2 separate regions of the Homo sapiens genome follow, and region 1 is linked to region 2. Evidence: fine-mapped expression QTL. Tissue or cell type: monocytes after R848. Region 2 holds a variant in brackets; the other region holds the start of a gene. All regions are shown on one strand. Distances are between the middles of the regions.

What was found. PIP is the estimated chance that this variant, and not a neighbour inherited with it, causes the effect.
Region 1: it holds the start of INTS1, and the variant in region 2 is fine-mapped to the expression of INTS1 in monocytes after R848 (Quach 2016, PIP 0.90).

Annotation. Positions count from the first base shown.
Region 1 is chr7:1,501,562-1,506,701 of GRCh38, reverse strand. It overlaps INTS1 (integrator complex subunit 1), which reads left to right and starts at 2,313. Exons shown (of 48, transcript NM_001080453.3): 1 at 2,313-2,379; 2 at 2,701-2,799; 3 at 3,511-3,801. The coding sequence starts at 2,742. RefSeq lists enhancers at 29-624, 810-999, 625-1,221 and a silencer at 2,108-2,667.
Region 2 is chr7:1,469,754-1,474,893 of GRCh38, reverse strand. It overlaps INTS1 (integrator complex subunit 1), which reads left to right. Exons shown (of 48, transcript NM_001080453.3): 40 at 56-189; 41 at 534-726; 42 at 1,201-1,328; 43 at 1,710-1,822; 44 at 2,508-2,621; 45 at 3,253-3,323; 46 at 3,670-3,761; 47 at 3,939-4,048; 48 at 4,202-4,617. The coding sequence ends at 4,317. Among named protein-coding and RNA genes, the nearest start is that of MICALL2-DT, 12 kb to the right of the region's middle. RefSeq lists a silencer at 394-593 and an enhancer at 4,368-5,063. The variant G/A (reference allele first, on the strand shown) is at 2,872.

The DNA.
Region 1 (5,140 bases), 32 kb before region 2:
GAGGGGGAGGAGGGGAGGAGGGGGAGGAGGAGAAGAAGGGGAACGAAGGGGAGGGGGGAGGGGGAGGAGGGGGAGGGGAAGGAGGGGAGGGGGAGGGGGAGGAGGAGAGGAGGGGGGAGGGGGAGGAGGGGGAGAAGAAGGAAGGGGAGGAGGGGGAGGAGGAGGGGGAGGGGGAGGGGGAGGGGGAGGAGGAGGTAGTTGTTCTCAAGGTCGACCCTGAGGTTCTGGCCTGGGCCCGGGTGAGGGCATTTGCCGAAGGCACAGGCCCCGCATGCAGGGGCGGTGATGCTGGTCAGAGGATGAGGAGAGGCAGGTGGCGGGGCAGAGGAAGCTCTGTGCAGGGTGCTCCCATTCAGGTGACAGGAGGAGGAAGCATTACCCCATCGGATCTCCCCTCCCCTTAGAGAGTTACCCTGAGGGACAGATTGAGAAACTGTAGAGGGATGAAGCCGCACAGCCCCCGCCTGGCGTCCGGCAGGGATCCGCGCCTGACCGGCCTCTCCTCCCATGGGCACCACGGACGTCTCCTTCCGGACTCGCTGCCCACACAGCGCAGGGTGCAGGGCCCTGGAGCCCTTGGGGTCCTGCGGGGACCCAGCTGGTGCCCACAGGAGTGGAAAGAGACCGTGGCGGGTCACACAGCAGTTCTCAGGCTGCAGCCTGGGGCCATGAGCCTCACTGAGGCCACAGTCAAATGGCCACACCCAACTTCAGGGGCACAGGGAGACCAGCTCTGCCTTGCGGTCCCTGGATGAGGAGATGGGACACACCGGGCAGGCGGTGCTCAGGACTCCCTCGGTGGCGGGGCAGCGTTCGAGTCAGTGCCCTGCTGGGAACAGATCTCCAAGATGTGGTTAAGTGGCAAAAGCCAGGTGCAGAAAAGAGGAGCCGTGCGCTACCTGCAGGGTGACAAGGCAGAGGGAGGCACACGGGTGGCTGCCTGAACGCACACGGAAAAGCCGGGAACACAGGCACAAATCAGAACACAGGCTGACTCCAGGGGAGGGGACCAGCTGCTCAGGGGTCAGGGGAGACCTTCGACCCTTTGACTGGATGATTCCCCCACCTTTTATTTTTATTTTTTTTTAGACAGGGTCTCGCTCTGTCGGCCGGCTGCAGCGTAGTGGCACCATCATAGCTTACTGCAGCCTTGACCTCCCAAGCTGAAGAGATCCTCCTACCTCAGCCTCCTCAGTAGCTGGGACCGTAGGCATGCACCACCATGCCTGGCTAATTTATTCTTGATTTTTGTTTGTAGAGATAGGGTCTCACTATGTTGCCCAGGCTGGTCTCAGACTCCCACTTTGGCCTCCCAAAGGGCTGGGATTAGAGGTTCATGCCACCATGCCCAGCTAATTTTTATTTTTTTGTAGAGATGGGGGTCTTGCTATGTTGCTCAGGCTGGTCTCGAACTCAACCGATCCTCCTGCCTTGGTCTCCCAAAGTGCTGAGATTACAGGCATGAGCATCACACCTGGCAACTGTATGATCTTTTGTGTCTTTTGAGTTTTGTTCCCATCAGTGTTTCCATTAAAAAAAAAAAAAAAAAGGCGTGGGGGCGGGGCGGGCGCAGTAATTCCAGCACTTTGGGAGGCCAAGGCGGGCGGACCACCTGAGGTCAGGAGTTCGAGACCAGCCTGGCCAACATGGTGAAACCCCGTCTCTACTAAAAACACAAAAAAATTAGCCAGACATGGTGGCGGGCGCCTGTAATCCCAGCTACTCGGGAGACTGAGGCAGGAGAATCGCTTGAACCTGGGAGGTGGAGGTTGCAATAAGCCGAGGTCGCGCCACTGCATTCCAGCCTGGGCGACAGAGCGAGACTCCGTGCCAAAAAAAAAAAGAAAAAAGAAAAGGGTGAACTTTGTGGAACACGAGTTCTATCTCAATAAAGCTATTATTATTATTATTATTATTATTTGAGACAGGGTCTCTCCCCGGGAGCCCCCCGGGCTGCGCCCCCTCGCCAGTGCCTGCGCCCCGGCCGCCCCCGCTCTCCGGGACGTGCAGAACCTGCCACTTGACTCATCCGCGGATCCCTGACGCCACTCCTCCCCGCCGTGCGTCCTGGAGTGCGTCCCTTCGCAACGCCAGCACCACCTGTGAATGGAGAGGCCAGCGCCTGCCCCGCGCCGCCGACCCACCTGGACCGGACCACATGCGCGCGGCGCCGGCCAGCCCGCCTCCCGCCGCCATGGGGCGCTGCAGGCATCAGGCCGGCGCCGCGGGCCTCTCGCGCCTCCTTCTGGGCCCGCTTCCCGCCGCACTGTTTTCCTTCCGGTTGTTCCGGAAGTCGGGTCCTCGAGGGCGGTGAGATCGGTTTCCGATTCCGGGGTGGCCGGGTGGCGGCGGCGGCGCTCCGGTCGCGATGGGCCAGAGGTAAGTGAGCCGCGGCCTGGGCGCTTCCTCATTGCCGGGCGAGCGCCTGGTTCTCCCGGCTACCGCTCCCGGCCTCTGGGCCGTCCCTTCTGGTTCTGCCGCCTCCAGCCCGGCGTCCGCGTCGCCTGCTGCCGCCCGACTGAGCCGCTCCCGGGCGGCTGGGAGGCGGGGTCCCTGCAGCTCCTGCAGCATCGCCCCGCCGGGCGGGCGCGGGACCACTGTCCCCGGGTCCCAGGCCCAAGCCCCGTGCGGCAAGGGAGCGAATGAGCGAGCGAACGAGCGAATGAGTGAAGGAATGACCGCACGCTGGCTCCTCCGCAGGTGACGCCGCAGCCGCCGGGAGCCGCGAGGGACGGGGCAGGATGAACCGGGCCAAGCCCACCACGGTGCGCCGGCCCAGCGCCGCGGCCAAACCCTCAGGTGCGTCTCCCTCCTCGCTCTGCAGCCCGGGGGTCTTTGGGGGTCTTTGGGGGTCTTTGGGGATCTCAGCTGCCGCGGATCCTGCGTTGGGCTTGGTTGTTCCGCAGCCGCGGCTGTTTCCAGGAATTCGGTCTGGAAACACTGCTCTCGGTCCTCAGCGGCTCTGAGAGTCCCTGGGAGGCTTGGGACAGTGGCGACTTCCTTCGGGACCCCGGTGATCTCGTTTCAGGCTGAGCTGCAAGGCGGCCGACAGTAGCGGAAGGTCTCCCCAGCCAGGAGGCGGGAGGCAGCACAGTGTAGCGTAGCACGGGGTCTGCGGCTGAACTGTCGGCTCAGATCCTCCGGACTTTGCCACTCGCCTGCTGTGTGACGCTGGGCACGTCGCTTAACCTCTCTGTGTCCCTTTCTCTCTTGTAAAGTTAGAGTAATAGCACCTATTGCGGAAACTCGGGGCGGGGGTTACTAAGCACACTAATTTGGATAGACCAGAGATGGCCTGGTTTGTGGTTAGCGCTACGTGACTGTCCACCATCACCTGTGCGTATCCTGCTGGTCCCAGCTCTGCTGTAGGCTGCTGAGTGAGCTCTGGCTTCTTCCTTGCCTCCTCTGACCCTTGTTTAATCCCCTCTGACATAACAGGAGGTTAGAGTCAGTCTTTTTCCATCTTGGGTGTTGCAAATGTGCCCGGTTTTCTCTCTCCTTTCTCTGCAGGGCACCCTCCCCCAGGAGACTTCATTGCTCTGGGCTCAAAGGGTCAGGCCAATGAATCGAAAACGGCGTCCACCCTGCTGAAGCCAGCCCCTTCCGGCCTGCCTTCTGAGCGCAAGCGGGATGCGGCGGCCGCGTTGTCCAGTGCCTCGGCCCTCACCGGTCTCACCAAACGCCCCAAACTCTCCTCCACACCCCCTCTGAGTGCCCTGGGGCGCCTGGCTGAGGCTGCAGTGGCAGAAAAACGAGCCATTTCTCCGTCGATTAAAGAGCCATCTGTGGTGCCAATTGAAGGTAATGAGTCTGTGGACATCCCCCGAGAACACCCCTCAGCTCATGCCGTCCATCAGGTGTTCAGGGAAGGCCCCCTCCAGGCCTAGTGCTGCCCGTATGGCCGAGGTCCTTTGGGAGAGCGGATGTTTGTGGCTTGTTCTTGGAAGTGCTTCTCACGTAGATGCCCTTATCCCGTGTGTGCATCTGCGTCCTGCACTGCCAGTGGCTGCCCTTTGAGAACCGGGTCACTCCCTTATTGAGTTGTTTGTCTCATGTGTCTGTTGGACGCCCCCTTTGTGACGGGCACTGTCTGAGCCCTGGGGGTAAACCGGGCGTGACGACACCCCAGGTGTCTGTTCTCAAGGTTGCCCATCCTGGTGCGTTCCTCTCTCAACCTGAGCGGAGGCGATGTGTACTTGGTTCCTCCTTCCCTCCTGGTTACCAACAGAGAAGAGTTGATCCCCTCCCTGTTTTCAGTTGAAAAGCAGCAGAACAGTAAGGACATCAACGGGGGAATGTAAGCTTCACCACTGTCCCGTTCTCGCAGAAATGCCTTTAACTGTGTGCCTAGAATCGCCCCTGCCCCTCTGCGCCATTTTCCCAACGACCATTTCTCAAGGCTCCGTGACTCCCTGGGAGTCGCTCTGGCAGCTATCGCACCAGCCCCAGCAAGCCTCATGGTCTGCAGTGTTTTGTTTCTGTGGGAGCATCTCTTTTGGGTAATTTCTTTGTAGGAGTCAAAAAGAACAAGTGTCCTGATGACTTTGGTAGTGAGGTGTCTGTTCAAGCCGCGCCACCTCTGGTTACTGAGTTTTGTGCCAGACAGGACCCAGGGGACTTGTGGGCTGTGGCCTTGCCCTCAGGGAGGGACCAGGCTGCTGCAGTGCAAGCCTGTGAGTGAGTCCCCGACGGCCCTGGAAGGGAGGAGGCCTGGCAGGGAGTTGCAGTATGGGCTTGGGCCTGGAAGCACAGGCGATGAAACCGGGGCAGGCAGGAAAGGGAGATGCCAAGCAGAGAATGGACTGTGCCCAGGGAATGGAGGCCTGGCCTGGCCTGGGCAGCACACGCTCATGAGAGCTGAGGCTGGGCGCTGTGGGCAGTGTTTGTGCTGGACTCAGTTGGCATCAGGGAGCCCTGGGGGCAAACGGCCCAGGATGGCACAGCTGGGGGACTGCTTTAGGAGGTCGAGCCTCAGACCTCCCATGAGGCGTGTCCCTGGGCAGCTGGTGCCGGTGGGGATTGAAGACAGAGACCACAGGCCTCATCCTGGCCCGGGCTCTCGGCCGCCGGCGGCTCGGTGCTTTATTTATCTTTAGCACTACCTCCTGTAGAAAGGAGGTTTTGAAGATGAGAGGAGACG
Region 2 (5,140 bases):
GGTGGGCAAGTGAGGGGAGCCAGCGGCCCCGGCCTCAGAGCGCCCCTCCCTGCAGCTGGACGGACTCATCCACCGCTTCATCACGCTCCTTGCGGACACCAGCGACTCCCGGGCGTTGGAGAACCGAGGGGCGGATGCCAGCATGGCCTGCCGGAAGCTGGCGGTGGCGCACCCGCTGCTGCTGCTCAGGTGCTGTCCCAGAAGCCCTGCCCTCGCCAGACACTGGTTTAACCAGGGGGGTCTGCGGCTCTCCAGCCTGGGCAACAAGAGCAAAACTCCAAAAACAACAAAAAAAAGCATGTTCCCATGGGCTGAGCTTGACCGGGGGAAGTCAGGACTGAGCTGGGCCTCAGGTGGGAGGAGCTGGGTGGGCCTCAGAGAGGGGCGATCTCATCCCCACCTCCTTAGGGCAGGAGGGTGGTTGGGGGGCAGCACGGGGTCTGGCTCCCGGGGCAGGCAGTGGGGCCTTCCTGGGGACGTGCGCCAGGTGAGCCCGCCGGCCGGGGCTGACTGGGCCCTCACCGCGCCCGCAGGCACCTGCCCATGATCGCGGCGCTCCTGCACGGCCGCACCCACCTCAACTTCCAGGAGTTCCGGCAGCAGAACCACCTGAGCTGCTTCCTGCACGTGCTGGGCCTGCTGGAGCTGCTGCAGCCGCACGTGTTCCGCAGCGAGCACCAGGGGGCGCTGTGGGACTGCCTTCTGTCCTTCATCCGCCTGCTGCTGGTGTGTGCTCCCGCCGCCCGCCCTCGCGCTCCCTTCCACTCCCTCTGCTCTGGCCCAGGCCTGCCTCACCCACTCGCGGAGGGACTGGGAGGACCTCTGCAGCCAGGGCCCAGGCCAGGCCACCTGCCCTGGGGACCAGCTCCCACCCTGGGAAGCCCCTGCCTGCTGCCCCTCACGTGCCTGGGGGGCCCACGTCCTTCAGAAGCCCAGCCCAGACCCTCCGTGCTGTTCTCTGCGTGTCGCTTGTGCTACCTCGAGCCCCTCATCCATCTGGGCACATGCCCCAGACAGCCATGTCCACACCCTGACAGGCCATGCCGGCCACCCTTGGGCCTGTGACGCCCCAGTGGTTGGCAGAGGGGGCTCGTTGGCTGTGGGGTCCATGCCCTGAGGCTCTGGGAGCAGATGGGAGCACAGGCTCTGTTTTGGCCCTGCGGGGCAGAGCAGCTCGAGGGTGCCGCTTTTGCTTTGCAGAATTACAGGAAGTCCTCCCGCCATCTGGCTGCCTTCATCAACAAGTTTGTGCAGTTCATCCATAAGTACATTACCTACAATGCCCCAGCAGCCATCTCCTTCCTGCAGAAGCACGCCGACCCGCTCCAGTGAGTGCCCACGGGCTGCAGGGAAGCCTCGGGCCTCCGGCGAGGGTCCAGCGGGGTCTGGAGGGTGTTCCTGGGAAGGCCGTGTCGTGTCAGATATGCTGCTCCTGAGGCCGGGGAGGGCTGCTGAGCGTGGTGCTCATCCCAGGGCGCAGAGGCCGCCCCACCCTGTGCCGAAGCCGTCTGAACCCACCCCTGCAGCTCTCTGGCTCTCTGTCCCGTTCCACGCACATGTGGCTTCCCCGCCCGGCCCTCCCTCTGAGCGTCCTGGCCTCTCCTGCATGCCTGTGTCCACACGCTCCCATGCCACCCTAGTTTGACCCCTGACCCAGCCTTCCTCCTGCCAGCGTCTTCCTCCCAGGTGAAAGCATCTTCTCTCCCCAGCGACCTGTCCTTCGACAACAGTGACCTGGTGATGCTGAAATCCCTCCTTGCAGGGCTCAGCCTGCCCAGCAGGGACGACAGGACCGACCGAGGCCTGGACGAAGAGGGCGAGGGTGAGTGGGGCTGCCAGGGGCTGCTGGAAGCAGCTGCGGAACAGTCCTACAGGGCCTGGTTTTCCCAGCGCACAGCCAGCCCTGGGCCGTCCGAGGCGTCCCGATGGGGGCTGTGTGAGCCTGGGACCTTGCTGGCTGGCCCCTGACCCACCTCAAGGGGACGAAGCACTGACTGGTGCCTGACAGAGCATCAGCACACCTGCCCCCCGGCACATCGCCCCGCCCCGGCAAATGGCCCTCCCCACCCCCCCGTCCCTGGCACATCCACCATCCACCAGTGCTTGTCCGAGGTGTCCCTCCCCAGGAAGCCTCCCCTGGTCCTACTGGGCAAGGCTTGTCCTTGGTTTTTCCCTGCCTGAGGTGACACGGCACCGCAGCACGTCTCTCCTGTGCCGCCGGAAGAGCGCCAGGCCCGGGTCCCAAGGGGCCATCCCGTCTTGTGCCCAGTGGGTCCTGGCCCACATTGCGAGAAACCCAGCAGGGAGAGACTCGCAGAGGTGCATGCGCCGGATCCAAAGGCAGCTCCCGGCTCCTGGCTCCACCCCATTTGTGGAGCGCTGCTGTGTGCAGGCACCTTGGGAGCCTGGGCAGTGGCCGCCGTGCTCTCGGGAGGGCAGGTCCTGGTGCCTCAGTGTGGCACGTCCTGCCGCTCCCGCCCTCCTGCAGCACTGCCACTGTCTTCCAGAGGAGAGCTCAGCCGGCTCCTTGCCCCTGGTCAGCGTCTCCCTGTTCACCCCTCTGACCGCGGCCGAGATGGCCCCCTACATGAAACGGCTTTCCCGGGGCCAAACGGTGGAGGGTGAGTCAGGCCCTGCTTCACCCACGCCAGGTCAGCGCCCTGGGTCCCATGGGGCTGCGGGCAGCAGCCAGTAGCCATTTGGGCACTGACTTTGGCGTGAGCCTGGCCCACGCTGGGCTGTGGGTGGGTGGGCTGTTCCTCACAGTGGGGAGCACCCCCAGAGAGGGCCTTAGAAACTCAGGGGCCCAGGGGAGCTGGAGGTGGCTGCTCTGCTTCAGGCACAGCAAAAAGCAGGGGAGCCCCCTAAGGT[G/A]GTGGGGGTACAGCAGGAAGAGGTCAGGCGGGTGGGCAAGACCAGCGGGTGGGCAGTACCGGTGGCCGCTGTCAGAGGACAGCCAAGGCTGAGCGGCCCGGATGGAGTCGGGCCGTGGGGACACTTGGTGCTAAGAGCACCCTGGATATGGGGCTGCCGTGAGGGGTCAACCCCTCTCCTTGGAGGCCACTAGTAGGGGCAGGGCCGGGTATTTGTGGAGCTTGGGGGCAGGTGACTGCCTGGGGCGTCACTGGGCTCATGCTTTCCAGTGCTTTCTGTCCTGTGGTGCTCGGGGCCTTGCCCCCTCTGGGTGGCTGGGGTGGGGTGGGCAGAGGTCTGCCTGGGCCCTTCAGTTCTGGTCTGGCCCTCTCTCTGTGTCAGATCTGCTGGAGGTTCTGAGTGACATAGACGAGATGTCCCGGCGGAGACCCGAGATCCTGAGCTTCTTCTCGGTGAGCTGGATGGGGCTGAGGGAGAGCTGGGAGGAGCCACTCCCTTGGGGAACCCCAGCAGGGCCACCACCCCAACATGGCGTGCCCGCGCTGAGCCCCAGGGAGTCCTCTGAGGCTGGGCTTCGGGTGGGGGCCCCAGCCCAGGTGTTCACAGTCAAGCCGCCGCCAGAGCAGGCCTGCCTTCAGCCCCGGGCTGGGACCGGCCAGTGGCACGTGCGTCCTGCCTTCTGGATAGGGGCCTAGGGTCCCTGCCGTTGCCGCCAACCATCACGAGACCAAGAGGTGAAGGGGCCTTGATGGGGGCTGGACCCCTTGGTCACACACCTCCCACCTTTCCCCCGGTCAGACCAACCTGCAGCGGCTGATGAGCTCGGCCGAGGAGTGTTGCCGCAACCTCGCCTTCAGCCTGGCCCTGCGCTCCATGCAGAACAGCCCCAGGTGAGGCCACCGCCGGCCTCTGTCCCGCCGCCACCGCTGGGCCCTGCTAACCCAGGTCACCGCTTGACCCGCCTGGTGGCCAGACCAGGCTTCCAGGCGGCTCAGCTCGCCCTGTCGGGTGGGGGTCTGGCGTGGGCACAGGGTGGAGGTTCCCACTGAAGTGTGTGGGTCTTTCAGCATTGCAGCCGCTTTCCTGCCCACGTTCATGTACTGCCTGGGCAGCCAGGACTTTGAGGTGGTGCAGACGGCCCTCCGGAACCTGCCTGAGTACGCTCTCCTGTGCCAAGGTGAGGACTGGCCCCCCGCCCAGGGCCCTGGCAGCCCTCGGGGAGGCCGGAGGTGCGTCCCCCGAGGGCTGGCTCTTGGGAGTCCCGAGGTCTGGTCACTGCGGCCAGGATGTTGTGGCCAGCGTGACGTGCAGGGCCCCGTTTCCCCCACAGAGCACGCGGCTGTGCTGCTCCACCGGGCCTTCCTGGTGGGCATGTACGGCCAGATGGACCCCAGCGCGCAGATCTCCGAGGCCCTGAGGATCCTGCATATGGAGGCCGTGATGTGAGCCTGTGGCAGCCGACCCCCCTCCAAGCCCCGGCCCGTCCCGTCCCCGGGGATCCTCGAGGCAAAGCCCAGGAAGCGTGGGCGTTGCTGGTCTGTCCGAGGAGGTGAGGGCGCCGAGCCCTGAGGCCAGGCAGGCCCAGGAGCAATACTCCGAGCCCTGGGGTGGCTCCGGGCCGGCCGCTGGCATCAGGGGCCGTCCAGCAAGCCCTCATTCACCTTCTGGGCCACAGCCCTGCCGCGGAGCGGCGGATCCCCCCGGGCATGGCCTGGGCTGGTTTTGAATGAAACGACCTGAACTGTCTGTGTGCTCTCTGGTGTCCCATGTCGCCCTCTGGCCAGTGAGAGCCTCAAGGACCCTGGCCTTGGCTTCCCAGCCCCACAGTGCAGGGAGTTGAGCAGGGTCCGGGGTGGTGGAGACCAGGGCCAGGCTGGGCTCTCCCTTGGGCCAGCAGTTCCCGCAGGTGTTGAGGGTCGGGGGATGCTGCCCACTTGGCCGCCCCCGCCCCACGTCATGGTCTCCCTGTCGAGTGCCGGCCCTGGGCCCTGCCGGGCCTCAAGTCCTCTGCCCACGGGGTCGGCCTCTGTTGAGTGAGTCCGGCCTTGTCAGGCTGCGTGGGGGACTGGCCCAGCTGACTGGTCTCTCTCTCCTGCACTAAAAGGATCAACAAGGCCCTGAGAGCCTCAACTGTGGGCGTCCCTCTGTGGGAGCTGAGTTGGGGTCCCATTCCAGAAGAGTCCGAGTAGCCGGTGGTGCTGCTCGTCCTGCCTTTGCAGGCACCAGCTCCCAGGGGAGGGTCTGGGAGGGTCCTAGTGCATGCGGGGCG